Regions from separate parts of the Homo sapiens genome. Here region 1 is linked to region 2. Evidence: fine-mapped expression QTL. A gene starts in region 2. The other region holds a variant in brackets. All regions are shown on one strand. Distances are between the middles of the regions. Region 1 overlaps ATG10 (autophagy related 10). Region 2 holds the start of RPS23 (ribosomal protein S23).

Evidence for each region.
Region 1: its variant is fine-mapped to the expression of RPS23 in monocytes (CEDAR, PIP 0.95). The same link has a PIP of 0.9 or more in B cells.

The regions. Positions count from the first base shown.
Region 1 is chr5:82,015,876-82,018,793 of GRCh38, reverse strand. The region is part of intron 2 of ATG10 (autophagy related 10); the gene reads right to left. Among named protein-coding and RNA genes, the nearest start is that of ATG10, 45 kb to the right of the region's middle. The variant G/AG (reference allele first, on the strand shown) is at 1,639.
Region 2 is chr5:82,276,567-82,279,484 of GRCh38, reverse strand. RPS23 (ribosomal protein S23) reads left to right here and starts at 1,131. Exons shown (of 4, transcript NM_001025.5): 1 at 1,131-1,165; 2 at 1,633-1,792. The coding sequence starts at 1,162. It also overlaps the pseudogene ATP6AP1L. RefSeq lists an enhancer at 811-1,140.

The DNA.
Region 1 (2,918 bases), 260 kb after region 2:
TTGAAATGTTGCACAGGGCAGGCAGGGAGGCCTCATTAAGGAGGTGGCATGTGAGCAACCACACAAAGGACCTGGATGACTTAGCTATATCTGGAAGAAGAGTGTTCTAGACAGAGGGGCCAGTCAGTTCAGAGGCCCCAGGGTGGCAGTGTTTGTCTGGAGTGTTTAAAGAACAGCAAGGTCAGCGTGCCTGGACAGTTGTGATGAAAGAAAGAAAAATAGGAGGTGAAATCAGGGGAGTAAGAAAGTGGAGAAGGAAGCAAACTGCACAGTTTATGGTGTATTGTAAATATTTTGGCTTTTAATCTGAGTTGAGAAGTGACACAATCTGACTTGTATTTTAAGAGTTATGTCATAGGAAGGCAAGAGTGAAAACAGTCAGATCATTAGGAAGGTAATCCTAGTAAGAGTTGACGATAGTTTATACCAGGGTGGTAGCAGGGAAGATGATGACAGATGGTATGATTCTGGATATTATGAAAAGGGAACAAGCAGGATTTCCTAATGGATTAGATGTGGGGTGTAAAAAAAATAAAGGAGTTAAAGATAGTTCCAGTAGCTTGAGCAACTGGAAGGATGGAGTTGTCATCAATTCAAAGAGGGCTGGTTTGGGTGGTAGTAGGTGAACAAGTTTGGGAGCGGGGAGACTAGGAGTTTAATTCTGGACATGTTAGCTTCGGGATCTAAGTGAATCCATCAAAGTAGAAGTGTCAAGAAGTTGGCCTTAAGGGAGAGACATCTGGGCAGAGGATATACATTTAGGAGTAATTAGCATTTGGATGGAATTTAAATGATGAGACCTCCATGGTCATGAGACTAGCTAGAGATGAGAATAAGACATAGGACTGCTCATGGGCACTAATATTATGAGACTGTGGGGAAAAAATAAAGAAACAGCAAAGGAGACTGAAAAGGAATAAAGAGTAATATAGAAGGTGAACTAAGAGAGTAAGGACACCAATTGAAGAAAGTATATCAAGGAGGAAAGAATGATCAATCCTGTCAAGTGATGCTAGAAGATCAAATAATTTACCTGTGAGTTTAGCAGCCTAGATATCACTGGTAACATTAATAATAATATTGGACCCAATGGATCATTCCATAAGAAAAGAAATTTTACTACTTAAATTCTTCTAAAACAAATAGTTTTTGTTAAGCATTTGACAGAATCCAGCATCCCTTTATGATTAAAACCCTCAGCAAAACCAGCATAGAAGGGACATATCTTAAGGTAAAAAAGCCATCTATGACAAACCCACAGCCAACATTATACTGAATAAGGAAAAGTTGAAAGCATTCCCCCTGAGAATTGGAACAAGACAAGGATGCCCACTTTCATCACTTCTATTTAACATAGTACTGAAAGTCCTAGTCAGAGCAATCAGACAAGAGAAAGAAATAAAGGGCATCCAAATCAGTAAAGAGGACATCAAACTGTCACTGTTTGCTAAGGACATTATCGTATACCCTAAAGACTCATCCAAAAAGCTCCTAGAACTGGTAAATGAATTCAGCAAAGTTTCAGGATACAAAATCAACATACGCAAATCAACAGCCCTGCTATACACCAACAGCAGCCAAGCTGAGAATCAAATCAAGAACTCAACCCCTTTTACAATAGCCGCAAAAAAAAAAAAA[G/AG]AGATAAAATACTTAGGAATATGCTTAACCAAGGAGGTGAAAGATCTCTACAAGGAAAACTATAAAACACTGCTGAGATAAATCATAGACAACACAAACAAGTAGAAACACATCCCACGCTCTTGGAGGGGTTGAATTGATATTATAAAAATGACCAAACTGCTGGGGCTGGGCGCAGTGGCTCACGCCTGTAATCCAGGCACTGTGGGAGGCTAAGGTGCGCGGATCACGAGGTCAGGAGCTCGAGACCATCCTGGCTAACACGGTGAAACCCTGTCTCTACTAAAAAAATACAAAAAATTAGCCAGGCGTGGTGGCAGGCGCCTACAGTCCCAGCTACTTGGGAGGCTGAGGCAGGAGAATGGTGTGAACCTGGGAGGCAGAGCTTGCGGTGAGCTGAGATCATGCCACTGCACTCCAGCCTGGGCAACAGAGCAAGACTCCATCTCAAAAAAAAAAAAAGAAAGAAAGAAAATGACCACACTGCCAAAAGCAATCTACAAATTCAGTGCAATTCCCATCAAAATACCACCATCATTCTTTACAGAACTGGAAAATAACAATCCTAAAATTCATATGGAACCAAAAAAGAGCCTACATAGCTAAAGCAAGACTAAACAGAAAGAACAAATCTGGAGGCATTACATTTCTTGACTTCAAACTATACTATAAAGCCATAGTCACCAAAACAGCATGGAACTCGTAAAAAATAAGCCTATAGACCAACAGAACAGCACAGAGAACCCAGAAATAAAGCCAAATACTTAGAGTCAACTGATCTCCAACAAAGCAAACAAAATAAAGTGGGGAAAGGACACCCTATTCAACAAATGGTGCTGGGATAATCGGCAAGCCACATGTAAAAGAATCAAAGTGGATCCTCGCCTCTCTCTCACCTTATACAAAAATCAACTAAAGATGGATCAAAGACTTAAATTCAAGACCTGAAACCATAAAAAATTCCAGAACATTGGAAAAACCCTTCTAGACAATGCCTTAGACAAAGATTTAATGACCAAGAACCCAAAAGAAAATGCATCAAAAACAAAGATAAATAGACGAGACAATTTAAAAAGCTTATGCACAGCAAAAGAAATAATCAGCAGAGTAAACAGACAACCCACAGACTGGGAGAAAATCTTCACAATCTATCCAAAACCCCATCTGTACGTCACCATCATCAAAGACCAAAGGTAGATAAAACCATGAAGATGGGGAAAAAACAGCACAGAAAAACTGAAAATTCTGAAAATCAGAGTGCCTCTCCTCCAAAGGAACGC
Region 2 (2,918 bases):
CATCTATTTAATTATTTAATTTACATCTATCTAACTGGTCTGTCCTCTCACATTTAGAATATAAACTGTATCAGAGCAGAAACCTTCACCCTCTTAATTTAACCGCCATATTCCCGGTACCTACAACAGCGTCTGGCACATAGAAGGCATTTTTAAACATCCTTGCTGAGTGAACCAATATCCCAGAAACCTCTCACAGCTAGTTCATCTTACAGGAGAAACAGTATTAAAGAGTTAATTAAATGGCCAGGCGCGGTGGCTCACGCCTGTAATCCCAGCACATTGGGAGGCCGAGGCGGGCGGATCACTCGAGGTCAGGAGATCGACACCAGCCTGGCCAACATGGTGAAACCCCCTCTCTACTGAAAATACAAACATCAGCCAGGCGTGATGGTGGAAGCCTGTAATCCCAGCTACTCAGGAGGCTGAGGTGGGACAATCGCTTGAACCCGGGAGGCGGAGGTTGTAGTGAGCCAAGATCGCACCACTGCACAACAGCCTAGAAGACAGAGTGAGACCCTGTCTCAGAAAAAAATAAAAATAAAAATAAATAAATCTATAAGTAAATGACTCGCCAGTCAAAATAAACGGCAACTTTAGGGTTAAAGGCCCAATCTGGCTCCAAAGCTTGGGGTTTTAGTTACTACACTACATTGCTTCACTATATTTTACAATTTACTAGCTGCTTATAAGTATGAATTAAGGCTCAGAAGTCTAATTTTCCAGACTACTCGGAGGACTCTCGCCCCACTCCACTCCACAAAGATTCAGCTCAGCGACTCCTTCCTACTCTGACCTAGCCCCGCGTCCCGCTCTCAGTGGCTTGGGCAAGAGCGCCTGCGCGGTGAGCGGGTCCCATAAAACGCATTCTGGGATTGGTAGTCCATGTTCCTCCGGTCTCCAGCATTCAAAAGAAAAAGGGGGAAAAAAAACCATGCAAATTAGATATCTCTGAATTTCTTGCAAATTAAATAAGACGCAGATTCTGGCTCAGGAAAGTGATGCAAACGCGTCGTTTTCAAAGGAGAGACCCCAGCCTCGGGTCAGGCGCGGCGCAGACAGCGGCGCGGGGTCCTTGGCTGGGCGGGGCTTGCTCGCGGTGGCTTGTGGCTCCTTCCTGCGGTGCTTCTCTCTTTCGCTCAGGCCCGTGGCGCCGACAGGATGGGTGAGCTGTTGTGGCCGGTTTAAGGGCGCTGCAAGCGGGACTTGGGGTCTTGGGGACGGGCGGGCGGATGCGAATAGAGTAGGGCGGGGGATGCCATGGAGAGGCTCCATGGGGGAGGGCCGGGGAAGCGCCGCTCCAGGAGGCACGTGGTCCGGCGCGGAAGGGGCCCATGAGGCGTGGAGGCCGCCGAGGTCGGGGTACCGAGGGACGCAGGGAGGCCAGCGCTTCCTCCCGGGCATTCGAGCGGGGCCTCGTCCTTCGGGAGAACACATTCTCCGGAGCCCTCTTCGAACGTTTATTAGTCGGTTCAGGGCAACTTGAAGGCCAAATGTTTGGCCCACAGGCCAATAAATAGTACGAGAGCCAATCGGCTTAAGGGTTTATTCCAGGTGAGGCGAGTGTCTTAGAAGATGGGAAACACGTAGATGGCGTGTTTTTACGGAAGAACTAAAATATTTAATTTTTAGGCAAGTGTCGTGGACTTCGTACTGCTAGGAAGCTCCGTAGTCACCGACGAGACCAGAAGTGGCATGATAAACAGTATAAGAAAGCTCATTTGGGCACAGCCCTAAAGGCCAACCCTTTTGGAGGTGCTTCTCATGCAAAAGGAATCGTGCTGGAAAAAGTGTAAGTCCATTGCTCCCGTCAAGTTTTAGTTTATTATAGGAATTCGAGACATGAACTTACGAATTCTTGTTTTGAAAGTAATTGCAGGTTTTTGTGTAGTAGTATTCATTTGGGCATTGTGGGGTAAAATTGCAAAGCGTTTGTTCTATTTAAAAGTTGGTAAAATTAGTTTTTGGGAATTAGGTAGTTAAGGTTTTAATTTAACGTTGGCCTGGAAGGAATTGGAGAAGATACTAGCAATGATGAAGTAAAGGACACAAACACCTTTACTGTGGGAGTTGTTATAAGTAAATGGCACGTGTCAGCTATTGAACTTTATCGACTTGATAAAACTAAGGTGAAGAGAAGTGACTTGCATCAGAATTAATTGAGGTCATACACCTAAGATTGAGACATGAAACTGCCAGTATTTGACTGGTTTTGACTTTTTAAAATAATAATTTCATATAGTTCTATCATATTTGATGGTAGAGCCATTTTAACCCAGACTTTTTTTTTTTTTTTTTTTTTTTTTGAGACAGTCTAGCTCTGTCACCCAGGCTGGTGTGCAGTAGCGCAAGACTCCCTGCAACCTTAGCCTCCCAGGTTCAAGCATTTCTCCTGCCTCAGCCTCCCAGGTAGCTGGGATTACAGGCGCCCACTACCACACCAGCTAATATTTTGTATTTTCAGTAGTGATGGGGTTTCACCATGTTGACCAGGCTAGTCTCAAACTCCTGACCTCAGGTGATAATGCCTGCTTCGGCCTCCGAAAGTGCTGGAATTACAGGCGTGAGCCACTGTGTCCGGCCCAGACTTTCTAATTCTTACCTCAGATACCTTTTTTCTTTTTTCTTTTTTTTTTTTTGAGATAGGGTCCCTTGTCACACAGGCTGGCCATCTTGACGTTCTAGGCATAGATCCTCCCACGTCAGCCTCGCAAGTAGTTGGGACTACAGGCCCACGCTGCCACTCCAGTCTACTTTTATAACTGTAAAAGGTCTAGAAATTTCCCCCATTGTGCTAATGAAATTAAGACTGGCAGAAAACTAGGTTGACATCACAGGACTTCAGCTCAGCCATTTGAGGTTAGATTGAAAAGATAGAAACAGTTTCTCATTAGTTCTCTAGTTAATATGAAAAGATA